Linked DNA regions of Homo sapiens: all the other regions are linked to region 2. Evidence: fine-mapped expression QTL. A gene starts in region 2. Each other region holds a variant in brackets. All regions are shown on one strand. Distances are from middle to middle. Region 1 overlaps CDC14B (cell division cycle 14B). Region 2 holds the start of HABP4 (hyaluronan binding protein 4). Region 3 overlaps SLC35D2 (solute carrier family 35 member D2).

Region 1 (8,184 bases), 69 kb before region 2:
TGGATAAATTGCTGCTCTGCTGTACTGCATTAATAAGTGCAACTTAAATCATTAGCTCAGTGTTTTTTTACTTACACAGTACAGTGATGATGACGAAATCAATGGAGTGACACAAGGTGATAGACTTCGGGCCTTGAAAAGCAGAAGACAATCCAAAACAAACGCTATTCCTCTCACGTGAGTCTGGGTTCCTTTGTTGTGGTTGATGTTTCTTCATATGTGTGTGGGGTCCTTGGTGAGGGTTTTTCCTGTACATTTTTCTCCATAGTTGCAAGCCCATGATGCCACTTTGAAATGCTTGCCTATGTTATTTAAAACCTAGGGGTGCTGGCCTTGGAAGCTCTCAGCTGTCCCTTGTTTACCTTGGTCCTCATGAGCCTTTATGGGTGGGAAGGCGACATCAGGGATACTTTTTCTCCATGAATAATCAGCATGGGGCATCCTCAGGAGCGCGACAGCAGATGTAAAGCCCAGGATGCCAGACTTGTCCATAGTTACTAAAGTGGTGTATTTCTTTACATTTGCCATGTTGCAGATCATTTGTTTTGATAAGCATGACATGATGGCTTAATGACATTATGTTGTTTTGGGGCAACAATGAACTGGTCTAAACTATATTTTGGGTTTTTCGTTTGTTTCTTTGGGGAATGATTTTCTAATTATAGAGGAAGATTTAGCCTGAGAATAGGAAATGTTGTAGTACTGAGTGTATGTATGTCTATGTGTACATTCTTGTGAATGTGTGTTAGTTGGGATTCAACCTGATGGAGCATCCAAGATTGTTAGAAAAATATGCAGAAGCAAAGTACATGACCATGGTATTTTTTGTAGGCTGTTCTTTAGTAAATGCTCCCACTTGTTGCCATTGGATTTCTTCCTTCTAGTTACTTCCTTTTTCATTGTGGGACACCAGATTTCCAGCCTTCTTTTTTGCGGGGAGGGAGTGTGATGGACATAGATCATTTATTCAGTAAGCATCTTGTAATATGGTAAGGAAGTATGATATAATATACCATTTATATTGGCAGAGAACAGGTTTTCTTTTCAATTAAAAGTAATTCCTCACTAGTGTCTCGTCATAAAAATTCTGAAGTAGAATTACACCTAAGGCATGTGTCATTATGGGTTGCTCCCCTGGGAGGTTCTTCTTAAAAGACCCAAGGCAAAGAATTGAGTTTTACAATATGCAGTGTTATGTGAATGAATGTAGGGCATCCATTTTGATTATAGGCATTTATTAAGCATTTCTTTTGCAACTTAGTGGTACTTTAGTCAACTATACTTTTTTAAAAATGGTGCCTTTTGGCCAGGTGTGGTGGCTCATGCCTGTAATCCCAGCACTTTGGGAGGCCAAGGTGGGCAGATCACCTGAGGTCAGGAGTTCAAGACCAGCCTGGCCAATATGGTGAAACCCCGTCTCTACAAAAATACAAAAACTAGCCGGGCATGATGGTGGGAGCTGTAGGCATTATAGGATCCCAGCTACTCGGGAGGGTGAGGCAGGAGGATCGCTTGAACCCGGGAGGCAGAGATTGCATTGAGCCGAGATCGTGCCATTGCACTCCAGCCTGGGTGACAGAGTGAGACTCTATCTCAAAAAACAAACAAACAAACAAAAATAGTGCCTTTGTATAATTTACTTAACTCCAAATGCCATTTTGTTTTTAATTTCCTTATTAAAAGTCTTCACCTAAGGCCTTAATGGTTTTTCTTTGGAAGTATTATGGTGGCTCCAGGTAATCATCCAGATACTAATTCTGGATGTGGTGGAGGAGGCAGGCAGCACCCTCGAGCAGTGCTTCTCAGACTTCAGTGTGCAGGAGGCACCCGGGCGCTTGTTGAAATATGGGTTATGATTGGTGGGGTGGGGGTGGGGCCCAAGAGTTCACATTTCTATCCGAGGCTGCTGGTCCAGGGACCACACATTGAATTGCAAGCCCTAGGAAACTGATGCTTTTGTGGGTTGATTTTAGCTGTGTCTGGGATTTTTTGTTTTGTTTTTCAGAATCAGCATCATCAGTTTATGTTTTAATATTTTGTTGCCTGCTGTTCAAAAGTCAAGTTGAGAGTCAGGGGATACAAATCCTGCTTAGTCAAAAGTTTTTGTTAAATAGGAAATTTCCTTTAGTCACCCTCTGAATCTGCTACTCTCATTAACGTGAGTTCAAATCTAGCTGGGCGTGGCTGTGCGCACCTGTAGACCAGGCTATGCGGGAGGCTGAGGCAACAGGACTACTTGAGCCCAGGAGTCTGAGGCTGCAGTGAGCCATGATCACTGCATCCAGCCTGGGTGACAGAGTGAGACCCTGTCTAAATAAATAAGTAAAATCAAGTACAATGGTAAAAGTTAAAAAACAAAGAGGTAGCTCAGGATTCCTTTTGGTAATATCCCAAAAACAATATATATAAATAGCCCCACATAACACAAATAACAAAGTTTTAGGCCACACTTTTAAAGAAGAAAGCGAAATGCTAGTTTTTCTAAGCTCTGAGTTATGTGTATAGACCCGAGGGGATTTTTGATGAGTCTCAGCAAATCTCCTTCCTCCTCCCTTACAACATTTTGCTTATCCCCGTCTCTGCTTTTTCAAACCCTCTCTGCTATTATTTGCAGTTTTTTGGCCCTAGAAAAGATCAATTGAAGATTTTCTTTCTTTCCCTCTTGTGTCTATGTTGTTATTTTAGGAATAGAAGTCCCTGAGGGACTGTTCTCAACAGTTGCTTGGGTTGAAAAATACAAAATCAATTTCTTCATCCAAGTTTGACTCATTGATTTCTGTGAGCAAGTTATTTTGCTTTAGCATTGGCACTTAGCCTTATGAAAATACAGTACATGCAAGAAGGAAAGTTAGTGAGAAATACACAAGTACTAGTGATTCTTAGGAGAAGGTTATAGTACATAAAATATTATTCCAATGATTGGTTTCTCTTTTTTTTTTTTTTTTTTTTTTTAAGACAGAGTCTTGCTCTGTTGGCCGGGCTGGAGTGCAATGGTGTGCCCTCGGCTCACTGCAACCTCTGCCTCCCAGGTTCAAGTGATTCTGCTGCCTGAGCCTCCGGAGTATCTGGGATTATGCACCACCACACCCAGCTAATTTTTTGTATTTTTAGTAGAGACAAGGTTTCACCATGTTGGCCAGGCTGGTCTCGAAATCCTGACCTCAAGTGGTACACCCACCTCAGCCTCCCAAAGTGCTAGGATTACAGGCATGAACCACCGGCGCCTGGCCGGTTTCTCTTTTATAAATGGTCAGTTTTGGGGGAGAGTTTAAGTTTTTAGTGATTATAAAATGGCCATTTGCTCAGCCTGTCTGATCCTGACTACAATGATGACAGGAAACCATGTGGCACCATGACATTGAGCTGATCTTCAGGACGTGATGACAAGTATATTGTCTGTGCTAAAATGGATTTGGTAGATTGCATAACTTGAGCCATGAGGCCTGTCGTTCTGCATACTGATGGTTTTGGTAGGTTTGGAGATGAGTATATCTGTTAGCAATGGAAAATAATTCTTTTTTTATTTTTATTTTTTATTTTTATTTTTGAGACAGAGTATCGCCCTGTCGCCCAGGCTGGAGTAAAGTGGTGCGATCTCGGCTCACTGCAAGCTCCGCCTCCTGGGATCATGCCATTCTCCTGCCTCAGCCTCCCAAGTAGCTGGGAATACAGGCGCCCACCACCACGCCCGGCTAAATTTTTGTATTTTTAGTAGAGACAGGGTTTCACTGTGTTAGCCAGGATGGTCTCGATCTCCTGACCTCGTGATCTGCCCACCTTGGCCTCCCAAAGTGCTGGGATTACAGGTGTGAGCCACTGCACCCGGCCGGAAAATAATTCTTAAGCCATGAGGTTTACTAGAGGAAAAAGTAACCATCTATAATGCTGACACTTGGACATTCGGGCCATTCTGCCTTTAAGGAACTGAAGGTGAAGGCTGGGATCGGTAGAGAGTTCTCTAGGGCTCCCAGACCATTTATTCATTCCATTTAAATATTCACCCCTGTGATCTTTATGTATATTAGTAGCTTGTTTTTTTTGTGGGAAGATTAAATAAGATGGTGTGGGTATAACTTGTGGGGTAAGGTTAGGCTGTATTTCGAGTTCACCCTTTAGTCTAATCCCTTTCCACAATATAGGATGCCTGGCATGTAATTTCTTTTTCCCCGAGACAGAGTCTTGCTTTGTCACCCAGGCTGGGGTACAGTGGCGTAATCTTGGCTCACTGCAACCTCCACCTTATGGGTTCAAGTGATTCTCCTGCCTCAGCCTCCTGAGTAGCTGGGAATACAGGCACACGCCACCACGCCTCGCTAATTTTTGTATTTTTAGTAGAGATGGGGTTTCACCGTGTTGGCCAGGCTGGTCTCAAACTCCTGACCTCGTGATCTGCCCGCCTCAGCCTCCTAAAGTGCTGGGATTACAGGCGTGAGCCACTGCGCCTGGCCTGACATGTAATTTTTAATGATGACAGTGATGAGGTCAACAATAAAAATGACATGATAAGCCAAATCAGCCATTTCCAAATTGATTAGCAGTACTC[T/C]GCACACAGCAGATGCTCAGTAGAGGCTCTAATATTTGGTCACAGATGTATCCAGGTGACCATTTGGAAGTATAGTCATTGGAAAGAGCTTCTGCCCTTCCAAATGGGAGGAGGTTTCCTTCCTCACTGCTAGAACCCAGACCAATGGATTAAGAAACACCAAGCTGAGGCTGGACACAGTGGCTCATGCCTGTAATCCCAGTGCTTTGGGAGTTCAAGGCAGCAGGATCACTTGAGCCCAGGAGTTCGAGACCAGCCTGGCCAACATAGTGAGATTCTGTCTCTACAAAAAAAATAAAAAAAAAAAACTGGGCATGGTGGCATGAACAGGCAGTCTCAGCTGCTACTCAGGAGGCTGATGTGGGAGGATTGCTTGTGCCTAGGAGTTGGAGGTTACAGTGAACTATGATAACGCCACTGCACTCCAGCCTGGGCAACAGAGCAAGACCCCTGTTTCTTTCTTTCTTTCTTCTTCTTTTTTTTTTTTTTTTTTTTTGAGACGGAGTCTTGCTCTGTCGCCCAGGCTGGAGTGCAGTGGCGCAATCTTGGCTCACTGCAAGCTCCACCTCCCAGGTTCATGCCATTCTCCTGCCTCAGCCTCCCGAGTAGCGTGGTGCCTGCCACCACGCCCGGCTAATTTTTTGTATTTTTAGTAGAGACGGGGTTTCACCATGTTAGCCAGGATGGTCTTGATCTCCTGACCTCGTGATCCGCCCGCCTCAGCCTCCCAAAGTGCTGGGATTACAGGTGTGAGCCACCACGCCCGGCCTTTATTTTTTTTTATTTTTTTTATTTTTTGAGACAGAGTCTCGCTCTGTCGGCCAGGCTAGAGTGCAGTGGCATGATCTCGGCTCACTGCAACCTCCGCCTCCCGAGCTCAAGCAATTCTCCTGCCCCAACTTCCCGAGTAGCTGGGATTACAGGCATATGCCACCACGTCTGGCTAATTTTTGTATTTTTTTAGTAGAGACGGGGTTTCACCATGTTGGCCAGGCTGGTCTCGAACTCCTGACCTCAGGTGATCCACCTGCCTCAGCCTCCCAAAGTGCTGGGATTACAGGCATGAGCCACTGCGCCCGGCCGACCCCTGTTTCTTAAAAATAAAAAAGAGGCAGGGTGAGGTCAGGAGTTCAAGACCAGCCTAACCAACATGGAGAAACCCCATCTGTACTAAAAATGCAAAATTAGCTGGGCATGGTGGCACATGCCTGTAATCCCAGTTGCTTGGGAGGCTGAGGCAGAATTGCTTGAACCCGGGAGGGGGAGGTTGCAGTGAGCCGAGATCACACCACTGCACTCCAGCCTGGGCGACAAGAGTGAAACTCCATCTCAAAAAAAATTAAATAAATAAATAATAAAATAGAGCTCAGGTGCGATGGCTCACGCCTATAATCCCAGCATTTTGGGATGCTGAGGCAGGCGGATCACCTGAGATCAGGAGTTTGAGACCAGCCTGGCCAACGTGGTGAAACCCTGTATTAAAAATACAGTACTTAGCCGGGCGTGGTGATGTGCGCCTCTAATCCCAACTACTCAGGAGGCTGCAGTGGGAGAATTGTTTGAACCTGGGAAGCGGAGGTTGCAGTGAGCCAAAATCACGCCATTGCACTCCGGGCTGGGTGACAGAGCAAGACTCCATCTCAAAAAATTATAATAATTAAAAAATAAAAAATAAGAAAGAAACACCAAGCTGAAAGCCAACTAGTATGAGGAAAATGAGTGTGGAAAACAACTAAGAAAAGTCTATAGTATGCATACCTAAGTGAAATTTTGCTCATTTTGTGTTGCCCTGGGTTAAATGTGAACCATATTATAAAAATGTGCCATTCCCTTAGCTTCCTGGATGGCTCAGGAGTTAGTAACTCCCTTGAAGTGAGATCAGTTCTGCTGTATTACGTTCATTTTTAGTTGTGCCTCCTGTGATTTTGTTAACTAGTCTGGGGTTTTGTGTTTTTTTGTTTGTTTGTTTTTGGTTATCTGGTTTTGCCTCCTTTGCCCCTTGTGGTTTGCTTTAGTTTTCTGTGTGTGCACATCTTCTGCTTTTTGAAGAACCTCAATCATTTATCTGTGACTGATTTCAGTATCATAAAGTTAAATTAACATGGGGTAGTTATCTCACTAGTGACTGAGTCCCAAAGTATGAAACCTGTTTAAACACAGCATTTTTTTATTCAACATAAAATGGCAAAACTCCATCCTTGTTGACCACCCCTTTGTATCCCTGTTGCTGTTGGCTGGGCTTTTAGGGTGTCTAAAATTCACATATGGCTTGATTGATTGATGATTGCGTAATTTATTTTGGCTTCCCAATTTGAACATCTGTTCTTTCCCCTTCACCCCTTTCCAGATGTCCCCTAGCTGTGCTGACCTCTGCACTGTGTAGTGTTGTCATCTGGTGGATTGTTTGTGACTACATTCTTCCCATCCTGCTATTCTGTCTCGATGGTTTCAGAACACAGTAGCCATCAGGACCCCCTGACAGATAGCTGCTGTAAGTGTCCCGTTCTGTTTCTCTGCCGTTGCTTACTTCTGGTGCCTAGTGTGGTTCCCACAATGCATGTTTTTCTCCTTGTCAGCTCCTAGCTTTGTTGGTTTGCCTATTTTCAAAGGTTCTTTTTCTGAATCTTTTCAATTAATGGGATGGTGGTGGGGAGGGAAGGTGGGCTTCACTGTTCCTCTCATAGAAAGGATATTGAAAGTAACATACGTTGTTTTAAAGTTATGCTTATCCTTAACATATTTCAAAATAGCAGTTGATAAAGACACTGAAACAGTTTTTCTTCACTGAAACAGTTTTTCTTCCCTATCAAAAGTAGTTAGCTTAGGATAATTGGGGTGGTTTTATTTTCGTCAGTTGGCTATACAATTTCCCTCTAGTTTTCTGTATCTTGAGTATGTCCTTCCCAGTCTAGCAAAGAAGCATTTTTCCCACTGATCTACTTTCATTAAATATGTGATTTTGTAGCCTCGAAATCTGCCATTGTACAGCAGCTCTCTCATAAGTCTTCTCTCTTTAGTGTGCAGAATTTCCTGCTCTGTCTCATTTTCCTCCTCCCCTTTAGGGAATACAGTAAGTACAGTGTGTAGCACTTGATGCTAAATGAAAGTAGGAGGTCGGAGCTGAGGTCGCCTGTTTAAATTGGTGCATTTCCATATGATGGTCATTGTTCCTGCTTTTCTCCTTGCCCAGACATAGCCAGAATGCCTTTAATAGGCTAATAGCAGCAAATCTGTATTCTCTTGAGATCTTTCATCTTTGAAATGAAGACCTTAACAGCGAAGAGGCTTTATTTCTGCAGAAGAATGTACAAGAGGCCCACTTGTGGAACAGCATGTTGAAGACCCCCAGAAGGCGGGTGTGTCCGTGTCACGGGGTCCACCGCCACCCTTCTGTGTCTGAGCTGCGTTCTTCCTTCTCTGAAGCTTTTTCCTTAACTCATATTTTAAGAATTTCTTCTCTTGTCTCCTCTTGGACTTGGAAGTTATGAAAGAATGCAAAAGTTCCTTGCAAGATCTCTTCCAAAGAAAAATTCCATTGCAACCAACTCTGGTACTTTGTGGTTTCACTGAGTATTTTCACATAGCTGAGAAAGATTTAAAAATCAAGCTGATTTCACTCTTCAGAATTAGGCAAAACCTGC
Region 2 (8,184 bases):
TAACCTCGCCAAGAAAAGGCTGGCACATGCATTCATCATCATCTAAACCAAGCCCAGGTAAAGAAACAGAATACAATAAAATTTACAGTAAGATTTTCCACAAAATAAAATTGACCTTTGTTTCAAAGAACATAATTCTGAAAGGCTAGGAAAAGCAAAACTGAAACGGCCTCTCATGACTTTAAGAATGAACTTATTGAGCAAGGCTCACCCAAGGGTTTATATACATATTGCTAGACAGATAGTCAGACATTAAAAACCTACATTTTTGGCCAGGCATCATGGCTCACGCCTGTAATCCCAGCACTTTGGGAGGCTGAGGCGGGCGGATCACCTGAGGTCAGGAGTTCAAGACCAGCCTGGACAACATGGTGAAACCCCATCTCTATTAAAAATATAAAAAATTAGGCCAGGCACAGTAGCTCACACCTGTAATCCCAGCACTTTGGGAGGCCAAGGCAAGCAGATCATGAGGTCAAGAGATCGAGACCATCCTGGCCAACATGAACATAGTGAACCCATGCCTCTACTAAAAAATATACAAAAATTAGCTGGGCATGGTGGCGCATGCCTGTAGTCCCAGCTACCCAGGAGGCTGAGGCAGGAGAATCGCTTGAACCGGGGAGGCAGAGGTTGCAGTGAGTCAAGATCCCGCCACTGCACTCTGTCTCAAAAAAAAAAAAAAAAAAAAAATTAGCCGGGCATGGTGGCAGATGCCTGTAATGCCAGCTACTAAGGAGGCTGAGGCAGGAGAATCGCTTGAACCCAGGAGGTAGAGGTTGCAGTGAACCGAGATCATGCCACTGCACTCCAGCCTGTCTCAAAAAAAAAGACTCTGTCTCAAAAAAAAAAAAAAAAAAAAAAAAAAACCCTTTTCCATAGGAAAAGCTTGTGACTTCCACATTCTTTCAGGATTAACATTTCTATGATATGTCAAACATGTTTTATTTTTGTCTACACTAAGCATTCACTTACAACATTCTAACTAGATAAAAAATTTTGAATGTTAGAAAAGTACAGTGCTTCTTATCAACTAGGGTTACAAAACCTTGAGAGAATAGCTCCTTGACACCCATTATAGATAAATTTAGTACAGTAACTACATAAATGGAAATTAATGAGCTGTTTGCTCCTGAAATAACACATACTTGAAAAAGAACTTGAATGATAAAATTTCCGTTCTAACTACAAAATCAACTAAATACCTTTAGTTGATTTCAAAAGCCAGATCACTTAGACCTAACAACTGACAGAAAAAAAAAGTTACGAGTGTACTACATGACAACATCAAGTGCAGGAAACAGGTTGCAACCCAGTTTATATCATTTAAGTTTAGAAAGAAAAGAAATAGCTCTGTGCATTTATGTATATAAATGCAAAGTGTTAGTAGGAAAAATAAGAGGATTTTCACTTAACCTCATACATTTTGGAATTGCTTAAAATTCTTAACACAAAAATGCATGACAATTTTAAAAAGGCTAAAAATCAATGTATTAACAGCACTAACTCGTCTCACGTTTTTCTGAAGCACAGAATTTTTTTTTTTTTTTTTTTGTGACGGAGTCTCGCTCTTTCTCCCAGACTGGAGTACAGTGGCTCGATCTCGGCTCACTGCAAGCTCCGCCTCCTGGGTTCACGCCATTCTCCTGCCTCAGCCTCCCGAGTAGCTGGACCTACAGGTGCCCGCCACCACGCCCGACTAATTTTTTGTATTTGTAATAGAGACGGGATTTCACCGTGTTAGCCAGGATGGTCTCGATCTCCTAACCTCGTGATCCGCCCGCCTCGGACTCCCAAACTGCTGGGATTACAGGCGTGAGCCACCACACCCGGCATTTTCATTTGTTAAAAAATAAAGGGTGAAGAAAAGCTTAGCCTTCCTCAATTCCTTTATTATATTGATGTAAATAAGTTTAAGAGAAAAAGATAAAAAACAGGATATAAAATGCACAATGTATCTCCAGTCTCACTGTTTAGATAGGCTCAGAAATTTACTGGCCTACCAAAGTGTCGTGAGATAGTAAATAACATTTTTTTAAAAATCATTTTCAACATCTTTATTGTAGTGACTTGATTCTCAAGTGATGACTCTGGATTTAGCTTTTCACAAATAAAGGTAAACATTACCCAGCTGCACATCAAAGCCCTAATACTTAAACCTGAGACGTTTCCTCAGGGCTGCGATGCACAATTTTTATCAAGCAAGGAACAAACCAATAAAGCCAAGTTGAACACACTGGCAAACGTCGGCAGGAATGGTCAACCTACACATCTTAATCCTAACACTCTGCAAACCTTGGGACCGCTGCCTCATTTCAAGAAAACAGGAAACACAGGTGGAGTGTTGCTGGCTCTGCCACTGACGCAGTTCGGTGAGAGAATGAACTCTGAAGCACCCTCCCCGTCCACAGGCAGCAGGACACCACGCTGCGCACCGGTTTTTCTTGCTAAATAGGGAGTGGGGAACTCCGAATATTCTTGCTGGAAAGGTTAAAAACGCTTTTCTTAAAGCAGCCTTGAGCTATTTATAAGTTGCACATCCCATCAACACCACACGAAGTACTGAAATACGATGCCGGCTGCCTCCTGGAAGCTACCGGACGGAGAAGGGGCGAAGGCGCCAGGCCGGACCGCGCCGGGGACCCCCGCCCGGGCCCCGACGTCACAGGCCGCCCCGCGGTCGCCCAGGCCTCCGGCATCACAGAGGCCCCCAGCCCCGGGACCAGGCGCCCTCCTCCTCCCCACCGCGCTCTCGGGTGGCTCCGACCTCAATCTTGCAGAGGCTGGGCTGGAAGATGAAGGTCCCCGCCAGGTCTGGATGTGGGAGCCCCGGGGTAGCGACCTCAGCCGTTCGCCCCCACACGCCACCCAGACAACCTCCCTCAACTTCGTCCAACTTGCCGTAGAGCCTCAGTGCCAGGGTTCGAGGGCCCTATCCCACCCCAAGCCAGCGTTTCCCCCGGAGCCCCGCACGAGGCTGGCGAGAGCTGGAAGGGGTGTGACCCCTGCCCCTCTCCTCCTACCTTCGGCGGCCACCAGGACCCTCAACTCTCCCTACTGTTCCCGGGCCCCTCCTCCTGAAACCGGCCCCCGGGACCCCAGTCTCACAGCGGGCCGAGCCGTGGTCCGCTAACCCCGCTGTCCCCGCGTACCCGGCGCCTGCAGGCCGCCCCCGGGGCTATCGGGCCGCTGAGCGACGGGCGCCGGGAGGCTCTTGCGCTCCTTCTGCGACTCCCTCCGGCCGCCCGCGCCGGCTCTGTGGCCCGAGGCCCCGGCTGGGCTCCTGCCGCCGCGGGGACCGGCCCCGGCCGCCGCCGCCGCCTCGTCGCGCCTCTTGCGCTGCAGCTGCTGCTGGCGCCGGCGCTCGGCCTCGCGCAGGATGTCGAACGGGTCCGACTCGTCGTCCAGCAGCTGATGGAAGCGGTTGGCCACCACGCAGCCGAAACTCTCCTGCATCGCGGCGCCAGCGGCAGCCACGGGACTCCCCAGAGCGCCCTTCATGCCGCCGCGACCACTGCGGGCCCGGGAGGGCAGCCCACGCGAGCGCGTCTCAGCGAAGCCGGCGGCCAGGACCCATGCCGCCCGCTCCGCCGCCACCGCCCTCCGGGCCCTACCCTGTCCGGCCCCTACCGGCGCCCGCCCCCGCGGCGCCGCCGCCGTCCGCCCCGCTGCGCCAGACAGCCAGTCAGCGCGCGCGGGTGCGCCCCCTTTCCGACACGGCGCGCCTGGAGACCCAATCACCGACCGGCTGCTGTCACGTCACGCGACCTCTGGGCCCCGCCCCGTTCGCTCAGCAGGGAGGGGCGGGGCCCAGGGGCGGAGCTACTGGCTGGTCCAGGCGGCGCCGACGAAGCGGTGGGGTCTCGGCTGTGTGTGCTTTCTCCCGGGACTGCGACCGTATTTGCTATGGGCCACTCTGCTTTGAAGCTTATGTATACATTTAGCCGTGCAACAGCTACATATTGCGCACTTACCGTGTGCCAGGCATTATGTTGTAGGAAATACTAGCTCCGTGTTGTCACAGATCTGAGTCTGTAGATGGAGAAAAAGTGCCCTGAAGGACAGGCGCAGAGCTCTCTACGGGCTGCAGCAAAGGGATCTGACCTAATTGGGAAATGACAGTTAAGCCGAGGGAGAGGGGTGACAAGGGGTTGGAGGAGGAACAGCAAGTGCAGCAGTCTTGAGGTGGGATGTGCACAGCCTATTCAAGCTCAAAGTGGTCTCTATTCTAAGAGCAGTGGGAAGCAAGTTTTGAGCATGAGCAGATTTGGGTTTGAAAAGGCCACCCTACCTGCACTGTGAACTAATAGTTTGGAGGGAAATACAAATGGATGCTGGGAAGCCAAACATGATTGTTGCAAAGCTCCAGGGAAGAGTTGATAGTGACTGGGATTAGGATGGTGGCGGTGGAGGCGAAGAGAGTAGATGGATTCAAAGACTTGGTGATGCGCTAGAGGTGGTGATGAGGGAGAAGAAGATACGGTGACTCTTATTTTCCTGGCTCCAGCATCTGAATGATAGTATTAGTTACCACTGGAAGACACTACTTTAACGGGAATCATTAATTCAGTCTGGGACACGTTGAGGTTTGGATATTTGTTTTCTTTTGAGATATTCAGTTGAGGCCTGGAGCTTAGAGAACGCCGGACTGGACTTCCTCCAGGAAATCTTTGCATAGGCAGCGGTGGAGACACGCTTGGCTGCCTATCCTACAGCCGTTCTTTCCCTCTTACATTTTTCCAGAGCCTGTATTTTGTTCAGGCATCATATTCCCCAGGGGAAGAGGGCCCCTTCCAGCCTCAAACTTGATTAATCATACATTATTCATTGCACCTGATTCCAATTCCTTGCCAGTAATTGGCTTAGGAATAGGCTGTGGGGCAAATCGGGCAGAACAGATCTGAGAAGTATTCTGGGAAAGTTTTTCTTGCACCTAACAAGGGATTGAGAAGGGATCTCCCCCCCTTCTGTTCCCTGGTCTTTGTTCCATGAGAAGACATGATGCCTCGGGTGGCTGTTCCTTAGCGTGGCCATGAGGATGGCAGAGCAGGATAGAGAAAGGCTAGATCCTTGATGAGGTTGAGCTGCCGACTGGACCCACTTGGGAACCTCCCTACTTGAGGCTTATGATGTAAGGTGACAGATGTGATTGCGCTTAGTTGTGTTTGCTTGTTTCATCCGAAAGCATCCAGTTAGAGCATCTTGCCAGGTGCTCTGTGACCAGCTTTTACTTTCCTTAATAGCAAAGGAATTCCTAATCCTAAATGCTGTAAAGTCTGTGTGTTACTCACTTATTGAATTTTGTGTTATTCCCAAGGAGGACAGGGATGATGCCTGTCTTATTCACTGCAGTATGTATTCCCAGTGCTTGGCGTTCTAAGCAGCTATAGAGTAGGTTTTCAGTAAATATTTGTTGAATGATTGAAGAATTTAAGATATTTGGTCATCTCCTTTTGAGTGAGCAAAGATTAATGCCTACGCTTTCTACCCAAAAGAATTAAAAGCAAGTGTTCAAACCAAAACTTGTACATGAGTATTCATAGCAGCACTATTCACAATAGCCAAAAGACAGAAACAAATAATATACATGTCACCCGATGAATGGATAAATAAAATGTGGTACAAAAAATATTATTTGGTCAAAAAGGAAGTATTGATACTTGTTACAACAGGGATGAAACTTGAAAACATTGTGCTAAGTGAAAGACGGACAAAAAGGGCCACACGTTGTATGATTCCATTTATATGAAATGTCCAGAATCTATAGAGACAGAAAGCAGATTGGTGGTCACCAGGTGTGGGGGTTGGGAGTGTTGGAAAGTAACTGCTTAATGGGCATGGGAGTTTCCTGTGGGGTGATGAAATGTTCTGGAACGAGATAGTGGAGATGGTTGCACAAAATTGTAAATTTAGTAAATGTCACTGAGTTGTACACTTTAAAATTGTAAAAATAGTAAATTTTGTGTAAAATTTAGTAAAAATAGTAAATTTTTTGTAAAAATAGTAAATTTATCTTAATGAACCAGAGTAAAAATAGTAAATTTATCTCAATGAACCAGAATCACTACATGCAACAGAGACCACACTTTGAGAAGCACTGCTTCAAGCTAAAGTTATCTTTGGTATCTTTAAACTGCTCATCACCAAACCACAACACCAAGGAATCATGATCATGTGAGAGAAGGGCCTGTCGTCTTCCCACTGGGCATCTGGAGTTAGCCTGCTCCCCTGTTTTCTTCTTATCTTCCTTACAGCATAACCAGCCACTGTAAGTTCTTAAAGCATGCCCTGTGAGCACTGCCGCCTCATTTCCAAGTCACAAATGCCCCAAATGGTTGTAAGAGAACCAACTCTCGTTGCTTCAGGATTCAGAACATCTTTAGAACTGAAATAGAGATGAGTAATCCTTACCTGGTATTAGATGGCCACAAGTTTCTTTTTTTTCTTTTTTTTCTTTGTGTGTGTGTGTGTGTGTGTGTGTGTGTGTGTGTGTGTGTGTGTGTTTGGCAGAGACAGGGTTTCACCACGTTGGTCAGGCTGCTCTCAAACTCAAGTGATCTGTCCACCTCAGCCTCCCAGAGTGCTGGGATTACAGGTGTGAGCCACCGTGCCCGGCCATGGCCATGAGTTTCTTACGGGGCTATTGACTACTGCACAATTTACTGAGAGTAAGGTTAAGCACCCTCATATTTTTTACTGATTGTTTTTTCTTCTAGGAGATTGCATCCTTAAATGCATTCCTAAAATACAACTCTACCACATTAGCATAAGTTATTCACACATTGTGTTTAATGTGGTCAGTTTAATAGACTGATCTTTTTCATAATCTGATATATGAAAACAGCTTTTAGTAATCATAATACCAAACAATAACACACATCTTATAGCATGGAAAAACAAAGCACATCAAAAATGCTGTGAAGTGTGGATGCTGAATAATACTACCAGCCCTTCCATGATTATTATATATATTCCAGTGGTTATTTATTACCACCAATGGAAATGCAGTGAAACTTAACTGTATACAAGATGTAAATTACCTTGAATTACTTAATAGAGGAGTCCCATTAGGAATAATAAAATACACTAACATCTTCCAGATTGACTTGGAATTCACAGAACCATTAATTGAGAGTTTAGACACATGTAGCTTCATTACTTTCAATTACATGCAGGGAGCAACACCTGGGTGAGAGCCAAGGAGGAGAGGCCAGGTCAGGCTGGCGAGGATGTGAGTTCTTGTTAATTACCAAAGCACTGCATTCAATCTGCTCTGTTTTGCCGCTGAATTCCTGCTCTCTCTCTCCTTACCTTTTTCTTGTCCCTAAAGTTAGGATGATTATAACCTGTCTTGCATTCTTCATATAGTTGAATGGAAGACAAGACCAAAGAAGTCAATTGAAAAAGGTAAAAATAAATCTCACTATTTTATAATTGTTTCTACTTGCATAATATATGCAAAAACAAAAGTATTTTTCCTAACTCTAAGAGGATCTGATCTTTTATGCCAGTTGAGTCAATTATGACAGGATCAATGAAGTTACATAATAGTTCCTGGTTTCACTATTCTAAGGGTGATAAGTGAGTTCAAATTCAGTTTCCCACAACAAATGAATAAAGCAAGTAGCAAGTACATAGGCTCAAAGTCAGGAGTTGTAGAACCATAAACCATTAGTTAACAATCAGGATGCACCAGAAGAACTTCTAGCAAGCGGAAATCCATTCATGATGATCAGATACACAATGTTTAAATCATGAAATAATTTCCCCAACCTGCTAATAATATTTGTATTCTTGGTGTCATTGAGGGTCTTTCCAACTTGCCTTCTTATGACAAAAGGTTACTGGATAGCTTAGTGCTTTGTATACTCAAAGCAATTGTGCCAATAGAAATTTTTATTCTCTCCCATTCCTACTATTAAAAGTTTGATCTCTAGTTGTAACTTTAATCAAGGCCAAATAAATAATTGGGGATTTAGAACTTTTTATTTCCTCATTTATTCTAGATCCTTCAAGTTGTGAGCAACAGAAAACCCATCTGGAATAAGTAAAACCAAGGACTTTGTTGGCTCAATAAAAAAAAAAAAAATCTACCAGGAACAGTGATTCGCTCCAGAAATTCCAGACCAGCCTGGAACTCCTGAGCTCAGGCAATTTGCTTGCCTCAGCTTCCCAAAGAGTTGG
Region 3 (8,184 bases), 120 kb after region 2:
ACCAGCCTGGGCAACATATGAGAACTCATTTCTACAGAAAAAAGTTAGGCAAATGTGGTGGCATGTTCTTGTAGTTCCAGCTACTCAGGAGGGTGAGGCAGGAGGATTGCTTGAGCTCAGGAGTTTGAGGCTGCAGTGAGCTATGATGGCACCACTACACTCCAGCCTGGGCAACAGAGGGAGAGCCTGTCTCTAAAAAAAGTATATATATAAAAAAGTGTGTATTTATATATATAAAAGTATATATGTATATGTGTGTGTGTATATATGTAAATGTCTCCTGCCAAATTATTCAATCTTGTAGAATTTCTGTCCTTTAAAAGACATAAATAATGTCTTTTTTTTTTTTTTTTGAGATGGAGTCTCACTCTGTTTGCCCAGGCTAGAATGCAGTGACGCGATTTCATCTCACTGCAACCTCCGCCTCCTGGGTTCAAGCGATTCTCCTGCCTCAGCCTCCTGAGTAGCTGAGATTATAGGTTCCAGCCACCAAGCCCAGCTAATTGTTGTATTTTTAGTAGAGACGGGGTTTCACCATGTTGTCCAGGCTGGCACTCTGTGAGTTCTTAGGAGTGAGTTCTTCCTAGAGATGGTGAGGATGGGGTTCCTTGGAATTCTTTGAAATCTGGAATTATAAGAGAATGATGTGCTTGGGTACCATTGTGGATGGTGGAAAGAATGCAAAAGTGGCCTGTGAATATTTGAACGTTTGTTGAGTTTCTATATTTGTTGGGGCAGGGAACGGTAATCAGTGACAAGGTATAAACTAGGTCATTTGAGTTCTGTTTGTGACTGCCACAATGTTGGGTAAGGCAGTTACTTTTTGTGCTGTTTTTAGAACAGGAAGAAGAAGGCTTTGAGCAGAGGCTCTGGTCCAGGAGTTTCTACTTGGGCACCTCCACCCTGGGGGCCCTAGAAGCAGAACACTCAGCTGGCCTCTGTTGTCTGAATAAATGTGCATCAGATGTATGTGCTGTTATATTTCAAATGTACACAGATAATATCATGACTTCAAAATACAGAGCACGCTGGGCGTGGTGGCTCACACCTGTAATCCCAGCACTTTGGGAGGCTGAGGTGGGAAGACCACCTGAGCCCAGAAGATGGAGGCTGGGCTCATGTGAGCCCAGTGAGTTGTGATTGTGCCACTGTACTCCAGCCTGAGCAACAGAGTGAGACCCTATCTAAAAAATATAGAATGGTAAAAAAGGTTACTAAGAATTCAGCAATACTTTTAAATATCTTTGTATTTTATTAATCTACAGATAGTAAAATCAAAGCTAGTCATGTGGAGGTTGATATTTTCAGTAATAAAAGTGGTGAGGTTTCCCTTGCACTGAGTACTGAGTTAACGAAGGTTCTTTTAGTTCAAAGTCTTGGTTTTGGCCAAAGAACTATGCAAGTTTTTTTTGCATATAGAAATAGATTCTTTTAAAAAATGTAATATACTGCTACTTTGAGCCTGGTGGTTCTATATTTGCCCTCTCTGGGGACATCTAGTGGGTATATTAAGAAGTGCAAGCTGGGAGTGGTGACTAATTCCTATAGTCCCAGCACTTTGGGAGGCCAGAGAGGGAGGATTGCTTGAGCCCCAGAGTTCCAGATCAGCCTGGGCAAGATAGCAAGACTCTGTATCTAGAAAAAATTTAAAAATTAGCCAAGTTTAGTGATGTGTACCTGTAGTCCCAGCTTCTTGAGAGGCTGAGGTGGGAGGATTGCTTGAGCCTGGGAGGTGGAGGCTGCAGTGAACCATGATCACACCACTGCGCTCCAGCCTGGGCGAAAGAGTGAGACCCCATCTTTAAAAAAAAAAAAAAGAAAAAGAAAAAGAAAAAAGAAGTGCAGCCCTTCTATCTAGCCGCCATCTGTTGCTAAGGAGGATGGCTGCTCACTGAGGCTCACTCCAGAATGTTAGGGAGGGATTCTCCTCCCTTGGCTCAGCCCAGCTGGTGAGTGATGTCCTAGTCACCCACACTCATGATGGATGGGTGCTGGGATCTTAGATCCATGATGTCTTCTGATTCTGAATGCAGGCTGAGGTGGTTTCACTAAGATGGAGCTGGGTGTGACGACACACATCTGTAGTCCCAGCTACTTGGAAGACAGGCGGGAGGATCACTTGAACCCAGGCATTCATGTCCCGCCTGGGTAATATAGCCAGATCTTGTCAAGAGATGAGGTTCCCCCCAACCCTTTTTTAAGAAAAGAAAAATGGAGGATGGAGAAAATGTTGCATGATTGGAACCCTGGAGTTGGAATTTTAAAGCAAAAGTGGAAATAAAGAACATCCATGCTGTCCTTGGTTTAAGGCTGTGCTGGTGCATAGGCGGCCTGCAGGAAGCTCCTCTCTGCCCCTGCGTTGGGCTGGGCCCTGTGCTGTGCTCCCGCTGCTGTGCAGCTCTCTCCTCTGATCTGGGTCTGAGTGGCTCCGGGGCAGGTGCTGTGGATGGGATGGTCCCCTCTGACAGCCAGGGCCTGGCAGAGCAGGCACTCAGTGGCATCAGTTTGAGTTTTTTAATTTTTTCATTGTATGGATAAATAGGATTATTTATAGCTCCTGGGAATCTAAATTAATGTTAGATTTATTAAAATTATAACAATTTGAGAAACTTGGATTTTCTTTTTTTTTTTTTTTTGAGACAGAGTCTCGCTCTGTTGCCCAGGCTAAAGTGCAGTGGTGCGATCCCGGCTCACTGCAACCTCCGCCTCTCAGGCTCAAGCAATTCTCCTGCCTCAGCGCCTCCGAGTAGCTGGGATTACAGGCGCATGCCACCATGCCTGGCTAATTTTTTTTGTATTTTTATTAGAGACAGGGTTTCACCATGTTGGCCAGGATGGTCTCAATCTCCTGACCTTGTGATCTGCCTGCCTTGGCCTCCCAAACTGCTGGGATTACAGGCGTGAGCCACCACACCTGGCCGAAACTTAGATTTTTTCTTAAGCCTTAAAGTTCAACTTACAAATATTATTGCCTTATTTAGAAGGCTAACAATTTTTCTATAAAAGAACATTTACTTTCATTATTTGATAAATGGCTTATTAACTCAAGTTTAGCTGATTAAAATCCCCTAAACAATGTACTGTAAATCAGTTCCATTTACAACTTAGTGAATTAAAAGAATTTAAGCATTTTCAACTGTTTTTACAAATGGGAGCTGCCTACTTTTTCTTCAGCAATTCCAACCCCTGAGGCCAATTAACAAAGCTAGTAGATTGCTTTCTGTACTTAAGCAACTCTTTGAAATAGAATAAACCAAATTTAGAAATGGGGTAAATCAGCTTCTTAAAAACATTCAAATCCTGATGCAGACTTCGACGCTCTTCTTTCAAATTAAAATTGCAAGTCTAATATCAATTATATATTTCAAATTAGAACCACAGAGTTTCTTTAACTTTTCAAATTGTTTTAATTACAATGCACACAGTATTGCAAAGATTACAAAATTTAAGTTTGAAGTTAAGTTTATTCTTCAACTTGTAAAGCTTGATATTCTGATTTTTTTCCCTCTACCACCTCTAGTAATAAACACACTCAGGCCAACAGAGGTTATCGTGTTGAAGGTTTGTGACTGTGATCTTCACCAGAGATTTGAGCCTAGGACCAAGACCGAGTGTTGAATTCTAGCAGGATTCTAGAATTAAATAAATTCTGTGCTTACCCAAGTGCAGGTGCACTAACCCCTTTGCTAGAGTTGAGTTCACTTCTCTCTGTCAATGGTGAATCCAAGTTCCTGCCTTTAACCTGGGACTAATTAATTAATTAATTAATTGAAATGGAGTTTCGCCCTGTCACCCAGGCTGGAGTGCAGTGGTATGATCTCAGCTCCGCCTCCTGGGTTCAAGCAATTCTCCTGCTTCATCCTCCCGAGTAGCTGGGATTACAGGCATGTGCCGCCACGCCCGGCTAATTTTTGTATTTTTAGTAGAGACAGGGTTTCACCATGTTGGCCATGCTGGTCTCGAACTCCTGACTTCAGGTGATTCACCCACCTCTGCCTCCTAAAGTGCTGGGATTATGGGCATGAGCCACCGTGCCGAACCTGACCTGGGATTTAGCTTTTCAAATCTCACACATCTTGTACTCTCCTTGTACCATCCATGTTTCTTTCTCAGCCAGTTTGTAATCCCTTTCAACATTCCATCATCTGATCTGAGTTGCAGCTTAGGTGAGGTTGCAGCTAATTTCCATCACTGCTTGACTGGAATTAGCTCGCTTCTTTACCTGACTGGATTTGGCATTCTTTACCTGTGTATGTGTTTTCTTGTCTGGCGCTCATCCACAAGGCTGTAGTCATTTTATTGGCAAGTAAGTATCAATACCTACGGTCATGTTAAGTGCCTGAGTTAACTTTGGTAACAGTTACAGGAGCATTATCCACAAGTGGAATCTATTTCAATCTCCTCCGTCCAAGGCAGCAATCGCTCAGCTGATTTTCTCTTCTGACACCAGAGGTCCTCTGCTCTGGCTACAGATCAGAATCACCTGAGGATCTTTCATATCGTGCA[C/G]GGTCGGGGCCCCACCTCAAACCATGTGAAGCAGAACCTCTGCCAGGCATCGTTCGTTGTGTGTTGGAAGTGCAGCAGGCGGGCCAGGCGCGGTGGCTCACGCCTGTAATCCTAGCACTTTGGGAGGCCAAGGCGGGTGGATTGCCTGAGCTCAGGAGTTCAAGACCAGCCTGGGCAACATGGTGAAACCCCATCTCTACTAAAATACAAAAAAAAGTAGCTGGGTATGGCGGCATGAGCCTGTAGTCCCAGCTACTTGGAAGGCTGAGGCAGGAGAATTGCTGGAACCTAGGAGGTGGAGGTTGCAGTGAGCCGAGATTGCACCACTGCACTGCAGCCTGGGTGACAGAGCGAGACTCCGTCCCCACCAAAAAAAAAAAAAAAAAGTGCAGCAGGCGATTCTGAGGCACAGAGGATTAAAAACTCCAATTCTTAACTTCATTTAACATGCTGATAAATGAGAGATTTCAGGTCATTAAACCTTGTTCTCCTTACTCCCATGTTGTGGAAACATTCATTGGAAATGTACAGAGAAAATGAGAAGGATACCTTAAGTAGAAGGTTTAGCTAATTCACAGCTGGACCATTTTCCTGTCATAAGACCAATAGCAACATATCTTAAGATGTGGGTTACAAAACCTTTATGATATGTGTTTCTTTTTTCTTCGCTTAAAGTGCTTGTGTGGGGGTCACTGCTGGCCTTAACCTATTTGTCATTACCCAGCGTAGTGAGGCACACACTCCAGTGTCTGCTTCCTTGTCACAGGTTTCTGCTGATGTACTCCACGGTTCTGTGCAGCTATTACAATTCAGCCCTGACGACAGCAGTGGTTGGAGCCATCAAGGTGAGTGGATGGAAACTTGGAAGGGAACAACTGAGTCAAGGAATGGAAATCCAAATATTCCATGGGAGGCCGGGTTTGATTTTGTTGTTGGTGGTGGTGTAAGAACGAGGGCTGTGACCTTTTCAGCTCGGCCTGTGTGATCCCATCTTACTTCTTTTTTTTTTTGAGACAGAGTCTCGTTCTGTTGTCCAGGCTGGAGTTCAGTGACACGATCTTGGTTCACTGCAACCTCCACCTCCCTGGTTCGAGCGGTTCTCCTGCCTCAGCCTCCCGAGCAGCTGGGATTACAGGCGCCTGCCACCACACCCGGCTAATTTTTTATATTTTTGGTAGAGACCAGGTTTCACCATGTTGGCCAGGCTGGTCTTGAACTCCTGACCTCGTGATCCACCCACCTCGGCCTCCCAAAGTGCTGGGATTACAGGCGTGAGCCACCGAGCCCGGCCCCGTCTTACTTCTTCTAATCTATTGCATAGAATAGAGGGACAGATTGCTAATTTATAAAGGAGAGATGAATTATAACTTTTAAGTTGGGGGTGGCTCAGAGGGGGTGGGTCTGGGAAAATGAAGTAAAAAGCTAAAAAGAATAAAATCAGTCCAGGTATCAATGATTAGCAAGATACCTTGTGATCCATAATTTGGTTTTCTGGGAGAACCTGCCCACTGAGAAGTGGAGCCCTTGTGGAGGTGTATGCTGTGTGGTGAGATCATGAGCTGGTGGGTTGGTGTGTGGGTGTTTGCTTGTGTGGATGCATCTGAATACACACACATGCACATGAATGAATAGGGGGAGAGGTGTTCTGGATTCTATTCCATAATTGCTTCATTTTTCTATTCACATGAAGTCCTAGAGTGTGTGAAAACACTGCCTGCTTCAAGAGTTTACCTGTCCCCTGGGTGCCCAGAGGTCTCCTAGAATGCACTGGGCAGAGCACGGCCTGGAATTTGTTGACTGTCTCCACTCTGCTCAAGTTTACGATCAAGATAATTAACTCACTACTTGGCCCTGTTGTGTCCACAGATTGCAGTGTAGTGTGGGAGCCCAAGGTTGAAAAAAAAAAAAAAAAAGAAAAACCAGGCACAGTGGCTTATGCCTGTAATCCCAGCACTTCGAGAGGCCAAGGCAGGCGGATCACCTGAGGTCAGGAATTAGAGACCAGCCTGGCCAGTATGGCGAAACACCATCTCTACTAAAAGTACAAAAATGAGCCAGGCGTGGTGGTGAGTGCCCTGTAGTCCCAGCTACTTGGGAGGCTGGACTGGAGAATCTCTTGAACCTGGGAGGCAAAGGTTGCAGTGAGCTGAGATTGTGCCACTGCACTCCAGCCTGGGCAACAGAGTGAGACTCTGTCTCAAAAAAAAAAAAAAAAAAACCCCAGAAAACCTCACTACCCAATGATAGTAAAGAGATAGGAACCTGGCAAGCTGATGACAGCCCCACTCTTCCTCTTTTGCCTGCATGCCAACTGGATCAAGAGAGAGAATAATGCAATTTTCTGTTGTTATCATACCATAATTTACTGCATTTATTTAGTAAGCCCCATATGTAATGGCTTATTTATTTATTTTTCTGAGGCAGGGTCTTGCTCTGTTGCCCAGGCTGGAGTACAGTGGCATGTAGCTCACTGCAGCCTTGACTTCCTGGGCTCAAGCAATCCTCCCACTTCAGTCCGTGTGGAGTAGCTGGGATTACAGGCATGTGCCACCATGCCCGGCTACTTTTAAAAAATTTTTTGTAGAGATGGGATCTCACTATGTTGCCCAGGCTGGTCTTAAACTCCTGGGCTCAAGTGATCCTTTGACTTTGGCCTCCTAAAGTATTGGGATTACAGGCGTGAGCCATCATTCCTGGCCTGTAATGGTTTTTATTTTGTTCAACCACCTGTGAATATCCCTATGTACAAGTCTCTATGCAAAGTAACTAAAATGTCTAGTTTCAGGTTTTACTATTTATATTTTCCCCTAAACAGTTTACTTTTAAAATGACGAATCCTCTCTCTTTTTCTGCAGAATGTATCCGTTGCCTACATTGGGATATTAATCGGTGGAGACTACATTTTCTCTTTGTTAAACTTTGTAGGGTTAAATATTTGGTGAGTGGGAATTTTTAATGGACTCGCTTTGGGAAGACAAGAACCTTAAACACTCTGATTAATATGTAATAAGCAAAAGAGCCTGGAGAAGTCTTTCACGTTAAGCCAGGAGGCGTTTTGACATTCTAATTTCTAAGATAATTTTACTTCATCACTGGGTTCATCCTCATGCAGATCCATGGGGACACGTGTGATGGCAGTTTGCGGGGCTGGGATCGGAATTTAACTCACCTGTCTTCCTCACAGCAGGCCCCTGCGTTCTCTGCCCTCCTCCTATAAAGTGGAGGGTGTTAACCTTTGTGCCCACTAGGCTCGGCATGCAGGGGGTGTGGACTAAGCCAGCTTTGAAAGGCATTTGGGGTCTCAGCAGTGGGATACTATTTAAGGCTAAGGGTATGTAGTTTATTCAGTAGAAACCAAGTGCTTATTTTCTCTCTGAGGTTCTGCATTAGATTTGATGACTCTTTTTCTGCCTCCAAAGGCTTGTAAATAAGGGGAAATTCTCATCAAGCAATCCACAAACTTGAGGAGAAACACAGATATTGGAATAATTCCCTCCGCATGAAGCAGGTGTATTGATAAAAACGCCAGCAACTGCTGCTGGAGCCCCTGTGAAATTCCCAGTCATTTATTTTCACTTTTTTTTCTCCTTTCAGCATGGCAGGGGGCTTGAGATATTCCTTTTTAACACTGAGCAGCCAGTTAAAACCTAAACCTGTGGGTGAAGAAAACATCTGTTT

Evidence for each region.
Region 1: its variant is fine-mapped to the expression of HABP4 in whole blood (INTERVAL, PIP 0.99).
Region 3: its variant is fine-mapped to the expression of HABP4 in whole blood (INTERVAL, PIP above 0.99).

Annotation. Positions count from the first base shown.
Region 1 is chr9:96,514,499-96,522,682 of GRCh38, reverse strand. It overlaps CDC14B (cell division cycle 14B), which reads left to right. Exons shown (of 14, transcript NM_033331.4): 12 at 80-177. Among named protein-coding and RNA genes, the nearest start is that of HABP4, 68 kb to the right of the region's middle. RefSeq lists an enhancer at 1-280. The variant T/C (reference allele first, on the strand shown) is at 4,544.
Region 2 is chr9:96,445,597-96,453,780 of GRCh38, reverse strand. It overlaps HABP4 (hyaluronan binding protein 4), which reads right to left and starts at 3,612. Exons shown (of 8, transcript NM_014282.4): 1 at 3,153-3,612. The coding sequence starts at 3,501. RefSeq lists silencers at 3,095-3,144, 3,225-3,284, 3,295-3,834 and an enhancer at 4,115-4,194.
Region 3 is chr9:96,321,258-96,329,441 of GRCh38, reverse strand. SLC35D2 (solute carrier family 35 member D2) reads left to right here. Exons shown (of 12, transcript NM_007001.3): 10 at 5,273-5,351; 11 at 7,362-7,444; 12 at 8,101-8,184. It overlaps SLC35D2-HSD17B3 (SLC35D2-HSD17B3 readthrough), which reads left to right. Exons shown (of 26, transcript NR_182427.1): 10 at 5,273-5,351; 11 at 7,362-7,444; 12 at 8,101-8,184. Among named protein-coding and RNA genes, the nearest start is that of HSD17B3, 23 kb to the right of the region's middle. The variant C/G (reference allele first, on the strand shown) is at 4,507.